2 separate regions of the Homo sapiens genome follow, and region 2 is reported to be linked to region 1. The links are microRNA targets in miRTarBase. Many come from high-throughput screens and were not tested one by one. Region 1 holds a microRNA gene; the other region holds the end of a gene's coding sequence.
What was found. Region 1 holds the annotated microRNA hsa-miR-5006-5p (UUGCCAGGGCAGGAGGUGGAA, at 2,787-2,807, opposite strand). A microRNA usually pairs through its seed, bases 2 to 8, with sites in the 3' UTR of a target mRNA and lowers its output. Matches are read on the target gene's strand: a 7mer-m8 pairs with bases 2 to 8, a 7mer-A1 pairs with bases 2 to 7 and ends in A, and an 8mer does both.

Region 2: the mRNA of NARS1 is a reported target of hsa-miR-5006-5p. Seed matches in the 3' UTR shown: 7mer-m8 at 1,019-1,025.

Annotation. Positions count from the first base shown.
Region 1 is chr13:41,565,569-41,570,952 of GRCh38, forward strand. MIR5006 (microRNA 5006) reads right to left here and starts at 2,827; the gene lies at 2,718-2,827. VWA8 (von Willebrand factor A domain containing 8) reads right to left here. Exons shown (of 45, transcript NM_015058.2): 44 at 4,900-5,138; 45 at 1,267-2,737. The coding sequence ends at 2,629.
Region 2 is chr18:57,597,048-57,602,431 of GRCh38, reverse strand. NARS1 (asparaginyl-tRNA synthetase 1) reads left to right here. Exons shown (of 14, transcript NM_004539.4): 13 at 1-77; 14 at 649-1,776. The coding sequence ends at 780. Among named protein-coding and RNA genes, the nearest start is that of FECH, 13 kb to the right of the region's middle.

The DNA.
Region 1 (5,384 bases):
CAGCATTACATGTGCTTACTAAGGAGACAGGGGTTAGATGCCTTTCAGTGGAACCCCCCGAGGCACACAATGCATTTATTATAATGTCTTGGCCCTAAGAAGGGCCTGGGAACAGCTTGGAGTGGTCTATAATTAAGTACATTTAATAATAAATGCACATACTTCTTAGGTATTGCAAGAAGTGAAAATAAGCTCTTCGTCTTCTCAGTCTCAATTCCCTTTCCCCATCATCCTTCCCCTTCACAAATCAGAAAAGCCAGGAGTACTGTGCTTTTTTAAAAATAGCAATTGCAGAGGATGTCTGGCTGGTCGAGAAAGGTAAATTAAATTACTTGAGAACATTCTTTCCATGTCAAAAAAAATGGCTTCTGCCTCCTCAGGTAGTTACGCATGGGGAGGATTTGCTAAAGGTTGGCTGTTCCTTTAATCTCCCTTGGATTCCACTTCCAAAGGCTTTCAGGGGCAGTGACCCGCTAGCTAAGGGGCATCCCTTGGGGTTAAGCTGCCACTTGGAAGGGCACTTCCTCAGATTGCTGCTGTGCCTAGCAAGGAAGCAGCAGTTAGAAGTGTTCCCCCGACAGTGTCCCATGTCCTCGGTCCCCACACCTCTGAGTGCTCGAATATGGGCAGATAGATAGACTTTCTGAGGAAAGGGAGAGGAAGAGAGCCCTGTGAATGTGGACAGGGTACAAGAAGAGAAGTCACACTGGAAGGAAGAGAAAAAGGCAGCAGGAGTGTGACATGTACATTTGTGAGATGCAGCAAGGGGCGTGGGACTGCGAGGGACGCAAAGGCATTAAGGGGCCTGGAGGCTGGAGGCCCAGCTTTGCCCCTGCCTGGCTGTGAGTGTGGCCTATTTTCTTGAACTTCTCTAAGCCTCAGTTTCTTTACTTGTAAAATGAGGATGTTAATGGTACCATGAATAGTTAGTGAAAGGTCTAGTAACAGGAATCTTGGGAAAGTGACTTAAATTCTCTGAGCCTCACTTTCTTTATCATCTGCAAAATAAGGTAAAAAATACCCCTGTTACATGCATTGTTGTAAGGATGAATGAAATAATGTATGCAATCACTTAGCATATACCTGGTTCACAGTAAATCATCAGTAAATGCTAGCTGCTGTTGTGGCGACCGTTGGAATGCAATTACATTTTTAAAGATACATGTTGGATTGAAATTGTTTGCATCATTGAATGGTTCAATACATGGAGCAGGTGTCTCACTAGAGGAACAAGAAAGCCATGCAAACTCACCAGGTAGTACCACGTTGGAAATCAGATTGCTTTTATTTATTTATTTGATAGTTAATGATAGGGAGAGGGGTGATAGAACAAATGGGTATTATCTTTTCTTCTTTCCTATAATTAATTAAAATGAAATTATGGACCTGTACAATTTCAATAGATATGGATGGATAGGATAATATTATTAATAATAGTTTTTCCAACTTAAGACCAGTTTTTTCAACTCACTGGTGCCCTAACGTTTCTGATTTTGCTATCAATCGTGAAGAGGAGTTTTTAAATTATATGGTTAAAGAGAGAATGACTTTTGCTGAAGCATCTTATTTTAAACAAAGTAATATTGAGCTTATTGATAAAATAAAGGTCAGCCCAAGAGTGTGTGGGAATAAGGTACATTTTGAAAGAAAAGAGAATGAGGCTTTAAAAAAAGTTGTTTTCTTTCTTTTTGTTACAGCTAAAAATTTCCAATCACCATTCACTTCAAATATACCACCTTGATTTTACTTTTTTTACTTTGCTTTAGGTAATTTTTATATGAATATTCTCAATAAATAATTTTCGTGTAAGCATTTATTATTTTGAGCATTACAGTTTGGACCCCAAAATGGAGTACTGTGAATTTTTTGAGAGATGCTAGAAGAACAGAAGAAACAGTAAACTTTTAAGGCAAGACATCTTTCTCCTCCCACTCTAGCAGCAAGGAGAAGAGGACATTTGCTCTTTAAGAGCCTTTTAAAAGTCACGTGGAAAGGCAAGCACTCCAAGGATTTTTTGATTCCTTTTGGCTTTGGCCAAGAAAATGAAATTATTGAGAACAGCCAGACTTTCATAAGATATTGCTGTTGGAGGGACTTTTTGGTGGGTTAAATATTATAAAATCATTGTTTTCTGGTCAATACAGAGCAGGGAGAAAATAAAAATAATTGTTGGATAGGAGCATTTTGGTGGGTTTTGCACAGACTTGCATCTTGTGTCAGAATGTGACATCAAAGGCTCAGTTTGATGGGGTCACTTTTCTAACGTGACCAGATGATGTGTTAAGGCAAAAGCAAAGTATTTTCTCCCCCTCAGGTTTTTGGAAATAGACCAAACACATAGTTCTCAAAACCACCTTCCTTTAACCCCAACCTTTGATAAAGTGCAGGTCAACTAGCTTGCCCTAATCACTTCTAAACTCATCAGTGGAGTATCTTTCCATGTTTAAGTCTCCTTCTGGCTGCTTCTCTGAATTCTCATTACGGAGCAAGTGTAGGAAGACCCAGGAATGCCGGAATCATCCAGTCACTGCATGGGTTCACTTCATCCATATCTTCTTTTTTTCAGAATACTCTTTATTCCTGTCTTATTTCAAATCCTGGTGTCATCAGGGTGATGAAGGGCACTTCTTAGACACTCGACAACATGGTGGAGGTGAAGATCTGTTGTAAAATCTGAGGGATATCCTTGGTATCCATGGCAACGAAAGACCGACCAGCTGGTAAAGTTCTCTGAAGCCTGCCAGGATGGAAAGGGAAAGGAAGTTACCACTGTAAATGGGGCTCCCTTCCACCTCCTGCCCTGGCAAACCACAGCCCCCTAATGGTTTCTTAGGAAAGGAAGTTTTTACTTTCTAATACCTTGCTCTCTGCCTACCATTGAATTAGTCGTCATTAAACAATGAAAGGCTTGGAAGAGCAACAAGGAAAGACACAGCAAAAGCAGGGAACTGAAAGAAAGGTCTTTTCAGTGAGAAAGTCAGTGAATTTGAAAAGAAAAAATTTTCTTCCTTTCTTTACTGCCATTTCTTGGTATTTCATATTCTTTTGGTATAACAGAGCCATAGGGATTCATATGGAATCAGCTCACCTCCCGGGTCTAGCAAATATGTTGACCTTACACTGTATTTCGAAGTGCTTTTCCTTCCTTAGAAAACAGGCCTCTAAAAACGCTGCGCAGCCAAACCCTGAGTGGTTCTTTCTCTCTTTCTTTGCCTCTCTCTCTTTTTTTTGGTCCACATCACACAATGTGAAATGCGATCTGGATTGTCCAATTACTGCTTCAATGACACTGAGGTTATACAGGCTTATGAAATTTTTTCCAACTCATTTTTAAGTGAATTTTAAAAAACTTATAATGGGTTTTGATTTGAATTATCCTTAAAAATAACATGTCATTGAAGTTACGATACTTTTTTAAATACTAATTTATAATTTGGAACAAAAGGCCATTTTGAAGGCAACAAAACTGTAAGACACAGTTCTCTTCAAAAGAACGCCTCCTTTCACTGTGCCAGTGAAGTCTGGCTTTGGAATGACATTTAATAAAATTCAACCATCCTGTGTAGTATCGTATATTTGGCATGCCTGGTAAGCCAGCTAATTCTGCAACATATCTTTTGCCAGTGGATGTTGGACCATTTCCCTAGGAAACCACAAGGGTATTATTGTGCTTTCTTAAGTATTCAAACAGGATCTGTTCACTAGAAAGACAAAATAGCCATTTCATCTCAACTAGTATTTGTTGAGCTTGTTGTCTGCCTAATACTGGGCTGATGCTGAGGAAAACCTGGGTGGAAAAGGCATAGTTTGTGTTTGAGGATGTGGAGGTTCTAAAAGATGCAAAGTGCTAACTTGTAAAAACTAAGAAGAATGAAAAGTCATGTCATAAAATGACTGTAACTACATGATATTAAGTCTGTTCTCAACCTCGCTCTGCAACCTTACAGCAAGGCAAAGGGAATAGAAAGAGAAAAAGCTGCTAGCATTTTGGATATTAAAACATTTCCAGTCACAGAGTATGAAAAGTAAAAGGGGTGGAATAACAAAAACGTAGGCCCTTTGTGCTTTAGGCAGGGATTTTTTTTTTTTTTTTTAAGATTACTTTCACTGGTGTTTTATGTTTCTTACAGGTATTTTAAACACAGAAAAACCATGAGCTCTTTCTGTTTGTAATTCAAAAAGATAAATGTTATTGTGTTCAAGTTATGAAAGTGTTTCCAGATCTCTCCTTTCAGATCATACCCACTGGTATTTATTGTCTGATCATAAGATTCTCTATTGAATATTTAGTATATTCAGTGTAGTATCTAACTATATGTATATTATCTTATGTTGTCGCCAAGTGTTTCACCTGCCTTGTCTCTCCAGCAATAAGAAGGGATACATGTGAGTGTGTCTATATATATATACAGGCATGCATATATGTAGGTGATGTCTCTATGGGGATATAATACATATGTGTGTATATATATGTCTAATATGTACAGACATTCATACACACACACTATCTCCTATGCTAGGAAAATAGTAGATGTTCACGATTTTTAATATGATTTGAACACAAAATGATTAGCCTGAGCTTAGGAGCTTGACATAAAGTGCCAAATGTATAAAATACTACCCGGTTTATTAGTGACAAATCAATTTGTCAATGATTTATTAGTGGCTTAAATATAAACTAAAAAATAATTAATTTAAAATTATTATTGTTCATCTAAACAAAAGCTAGAACATATCCCCTCAACTAGATTATAAACCCCTTGAGGCTAGTAACTTTAGTTTCTGTTTTTCCTCCATCTGCCTCACTGTCCCTCATGGTGCTAAGCCTATAAAACAGCATGTGTTAGCTACTCAGTATCTCTGTACCTGCCCTTTTCTGTATGCTCAGATGACACTTACCTGGTTGCTTGATCACCTAAAGAGCCAATAAAAATGGCAAAAGCATTTACTTGAGGGTCTCTTGTGAGGATTTGAGCAAACTTAGCAGGATGTATTCCATATCGTGACAGATTTGCATCACTCAAGACTATGACAAAGTACTCATCAGCTTCTTCTTTGACAATTTCCTTGATGGCATGTTCTGTCCCTTCTAACGTGTGGTCCCCACTCATGCAGAACTGAGAGTGGGCATGCATTGTCTGGAGGTAAAAGAAGTTGCACAAAAGCCATGGCTGAGAAACTTCTTTTTTAACAAATACGATTATTTTTCTATTGACCATGAGCATGCATACATACCAATTATTACCCATGAGTAGTACATTCTAAGTTAGTTCTATTTAATTTGCATATTTGAGTGACAACAGTATACAGTGATATTTGTTATCTGGCATAGAATTTCATTAGATATAGGATATCATTCCAAAATTATCACAGTGGGCACTTAG
Region 2 (5,384 bases), not on the chromosome of region 1:
TTGATAGTGAAGAAATACTGGCAGGTTATAAAAGGGAAGGGATTGACCCCACTCCCTATTACTGGTATACGGATCAGGTAAAACCAATTTTTTAAGTACTCAACATTTTTTTCCACTGTAATCGTTCTGTATATATTGAAATTTTTAAAAGGGGAGAATTCAGGGTAGTACTTTGGTATTTGAATGAGCTATATTCAGTTTGCAGGTTATAATGTGGTGTGTGAATATTGCCAGCTTTGTTTTGGCCAAGTTATATGTTAATTTCATTTGAAAACCTGTTTAACGGCCGGCTTGTTGATTGCAACTGAGTTTTAAAAAATTGATCCTACCAGTATCTAGTACCCTTCTTCATTTTCCTCTTATAAATAGACATTGACTTATTTTAAAAGTTTTTAAAAATCTCTTCTTTCCAGGGTAGTACTTATTCCCTGGTTGATTTTTTCATACCAAATTATTTCTTTATGCATGGTTCATGAAGGCATAGAGATTAAGTGCTGGGATTACAGGCACGAGCCACTGAATCTGGCCATAGTTGAATTCTTAACCACAGTGAGCTAACTCCTTTCATGGTGGAAAATTTTAACTGTCTTAGATGAAAGTTTTAACTTAAGTATTTACTCCTCTTTCTTTCTTTCTTTTTTTAAACAGAGAAAATACGGTACATGTCCCCATGGAGGATATGGCTTGGGCTTGGAACGATTCTTAACGTGGATTCTGAATAGGTATCACATCCGAGACGTGTGCTTATACCCTCGATTTGTCCAGCGTTGCACGCCATAACCATTTTCTCCAGAAGCGTGGAGGAAAGATTATGAAAGGAACAGGCTCTTTAAAAAAGAAAACAAAAAGCCAGAATCTTCCTTTTTTTGTTTCATTGGGGTTTCTCTTTCTGTTTTTCTTTCTACTACCATAAAAACTATCTCAAATCACCTGAACATCAAGTGATATTAAGGTTGTCATCTTAAGAAAAAATATCCATTTTTTTCTTAAGTTCGGGAAACAAAGTTCGGGGAAAATACCTGGCATGAAACTGTAGTTAGGGATACATTTCAGCATTTTACTCACTTTATCCAAGTTATTCATTTTATTCAAGTTATATGTATGTATAATTCAACAATTTTAGATTATGGTGTAAGATACTCCAGTAACTTATCTTTCTGTCCTTTTAAGTGTACCTTGAATTCTTTGATTTATTTTATTGCATCAATGAATTAAAACAAAAATCTTGGGGGAAGAAATTGGCAATATCGTATAAAAATCTGCTCATATTAGAACACAGTATAATTCAGCAGTAAACACTAGAATCAAATGAATAGCCTTTTGTATCAGTTATTAATCTTTTCTAACTCTGCTTAGCTGCTAATAATCCTGAGGCATAGAAATTGAAGAATTTGTAAAAATAGAATTGCCTTAAAGGATTTGAAGTAAGAACATAATTTTGGGGAGAGTTTTTTAGTGATTCACAGTATCCCTCTTAGCATTAATTTAAGGTAAAGAGGCAGATTGATTTTCCCTCTTTCCTGGTAATTCCTAAGTAATTAAGAATAAATAAGTTCCAAAAGAAATTGTAGCTGGAATCTTAATAACAATTGTGAGTGGCTGTTTGAGTTGCCCCCACCATGTCCTTAGATCTAATCTGTGCTACCTTATTAACTCACAGCAGGCTTACTGAATGGCTTCATTTCAGATTTAGTTGATTTCTCCACCAAATGCATGTCATGTATTCTCAATAGGCTGTATTCCCAGCAGTCAATAAATGAACACCCGTAAAAACTCTTTGCTGGCTTAATTTTCTTAAAGCTAAACATCTCTTTGTCACATTCGTTCATGCTTTTGCAATTATTTTATCTTTTTTATGATGTATATATGTGAAATTAAGTACTACTAAATTTAGTAGATATTGCTAACGTTATATGGTAATGAGAACGAATGATTTTTTAACGTTAGATATGTGGGTCATGGTTAAATCTTTTTTGTAATCTTTTTTGTGTTACTGTTGGACACATTAGATTTTATCCTGTTTTGCAATTAAGTGAAATGACAGGTCAAAATGAGGCATTTAGGCTGGGTGCAGTGGCTCACACCTGTAATCCCTCCACTTTGGGAGACCAAGGCGGGCAGATCATCTGAAGTCAGGAGTTCAAGACCAGCCTGAGCAACATGGTAAAACCCCATCTCTACAAAAATAAAAAAGTTAGCCAGGCATGATGGCAGGTGCCTGTAATCCCAGCTACCCAGGAGGCTGAGGCAAGAGAATTGCTTGAACCCCGGAGGCAGAGGTTGCAGTGAGCCAAGATTGCACCATTGCACTCCAGCCTGGGCTATAGAGCGAGACTGTCTCAAAAAAAAAAAAAAAAACAAAGGAAGAAATGATGCATTTATAATCTATTCAGCCTGCATCTTTAAATAAAAAATACTTGGAAGAGTGTGAATGAGCTGTAGATGACTTCAACTAAGCAATTCATTTTATCAGAATTAAAGTGAAGAGGTTAGGCTCAGTTAGCCTTAATTTTAATGGTGTAAACAGGTCAAAGTTTTAAAATATTAAAGGAGAGCCAGGATATGGATAAGGGAGTTAAGGTGGTGACCTCAGGCCGAGAGACTGAGCACGGTGAGCAGCAAACCTCACGCGTGTGGACTTCACTCCCTTCGCTGTGTAGTTACTACCCTAATTCAGGTGTCACAGATGCCATCCCGCATTCCCATGGCTAGCTCACAAACACCCCTGCCCTCTCAGGACTTCCATCACGTGACTTTCTCCTCCCTGAAACTCTCTGCTTTTCATACCAAAAACCCCTCCACCTTTGGCACTTGTGTGACCTGCTCAGTTTTGGAGACAAACAGGAGGCTAATTCAATTGCTTAAATATCAACTTGCCCTCTTAAATGTCCTTCAGCCATTTCAAGCGACCCAGTTTCCCACCTTGCCGTTCAGCCCCTGCCACCTTGCTGCCTCGTAATGGTTCCTAAAAATGTTGTCCTTAATACGTAGAGTAGTTCAACTCTGTGAAAAGCAATCTTGGCAGCACAGTGGGATCATTTGGGGACCTTAAAAATAATGGTGTTTGGGCCTTACCCCAGGCCAGTTGAATCTGAATTTCAGAAATGGGACCAGGGTATTTTTTAAAAGCTCCCCAGGGGAGGTTGTTGCACAGTGAGGTTGACAGTCGCCAGGTGGCTTCCTCCTACTTCTAAACTCAACCTTAAGCCTCTCTTATTATTGCTGTAGGTTCTCTATTGATTTTGTATTAATCTCTGTAGTTGAAATGGGAACACTGAGGGCTGAGAAACTTCAAAGCTTGAATTTTGAATTGCCATAGAATAAGTATATTTCATCCAGCCCTTCTGGGAAAAAAGGGATGTCATGATATACAAATACTGCAATTTCTAGTATTTGGAAATTGCTGGTTAATGACTCAGTTTCTTATGCTGAAAAGTTTCCTTCTGCCTTATGGATCATAACCAATGTGATGATCAGGTGAAGAACATCTTTGAAGAGATATTGATAAACTTTGTTTGTGGGACAAAGACTAGTTTCTACAGTCAAAATCAAGTTTGTATTGGATAAAACTTGTCTTAGTACCCCAACTTACAGAAATGAAGGTGTTCAAAAGTTTTAGCTTTTTTTCAGTATTTACCTCCAAATTGCTAAATAACATGCTTATATTACTTTATTGATTTTTCAGTTTTAGGCGTTATTTATTGCCCTTCTCTGGCATATAAGGATTTCATTTCTTCCTTTTCCTATCCCCACCATTCGTGTTCACCCTTCTCATCTCCCCAAGTGTATTAAGCTGTTTTGGGGTTGCTATAAAAAAATACCTGCAGCTGGGTAATTTACAAAGAAAAGTGGTTTATTTTGGCTTACCGTTCTGCAGACTGTACAGGAAGCATGGTGTTGCTATCTGCTTCTGGTGAGGCCTCAGGAAACTTCCAATCATGACAGAAGGCAAAGGGGAAGCCAGCATATCCCATGATGAGAGGGAGCAAGAGATGGGGGAGGTGCCACACTCCTTTAAGCAACCATATCTGCTGTGAACTCAGTGCAAGAACTCATGTATCACTTCATGAAGAGCACCAAGCCATTCCTCCCCATGACCACCACCTCCCACCAGGCACCCCCTCCAACACTGGAGATTGCATTTCAACATGAGATCTGGAGGGGACAAACGTTCAAACCATGTCGCCATATTTCCAACTTAGTTCAATTATAATTTTGGTTGGCTGCATAGTTCACAATAGTTGTTTTCTCTTTCTGCCCAACTTTTTATTTTCCCTATACTAAATTTGTCTTATTTTTTCTTTAATAATTCAATCACAAAAGATGTTTGGATATATTGGGTTGTCTATCAGTTACTTCTTCCCATCTTCTGGAGCCTTTGCCTGCTTTAATCTGAACGAGTTGCCCTCGAGGAACATAGTTGTCATCTTGGGATCTTTCATTACCATCCTGTGTGTTCCCTTTACCTTTTTTTTTTGTACTGGACATCCTGTTTCCTGTTTTCTATGTTTCCTGATTTTTTCAGTTTACATCCTCATTTTGGTTGAGCACATCCTCCAGCAGTTTTTTTTTTTTTTTTTTTTTTTTTTTTTGAGTTGAGGCCTCACTCTGTTGCCCAGGCTGGAGTGCAGTGGCATGATTTTGGCTCACTGCAGCCTCCACCAACTGGGTTCAAACGATTCTTCTGCCTCACCCTCCCAAGCAGCTGGGATTACAGGCGTCTGCCACCACGCCCAGATTATTTGTGTTTTTAGTGGAGACGGGGCTTCACCATGTTGCCCAGGCTGGTCTCAAACTCCTGACCTCAGATGATCCGCCTGCCTCGGCCTCCCAAAGTGCTGGGGTTATAGGCCTGAGCCACTGCACCTGGCTGTCCAGTAGTTTTTTGAGAAAGGGTTCATGGAAGGTAAATTCATTGAGACCTTGCTTGTCTAAAAATGTTTTAAATCTATCTTCACATACTCTCCATAAAGAATTGTGGGTTAGAAAGCATTTTCCAGCTGGGTGCGATGACTCATGCCCATAATCCCAGCACTTTGGGAGGCTAAGGTGGGAGGATTGCTTGAGGCCAGGTGTTTGAGACCGCCTTTTTTTTTTTTTTTTGAGATGGAGTTTCACTCTGTCACCCGGGCTGGAGTGCAGTGGCGCCATCTTGGCTCACTGCAACCTGTGCCTCCCAGGTTCAAGTGATTCTCATGTCTCAGCCTCCCAAGTAGCTGGAACTACAGCCAGGAGCCACCACGCCTGGCTAATTTTTTGTATTTTTAGTAGAGACGGGGTTTTGCAATGTTGGCAAGGCTGGTGCGAGACCCAGTTGCTACAAAAAAATTAAAATATTAGTTGGGTGTGATGGTGCACACACCTGTAATCCTAGCTACTTGGGA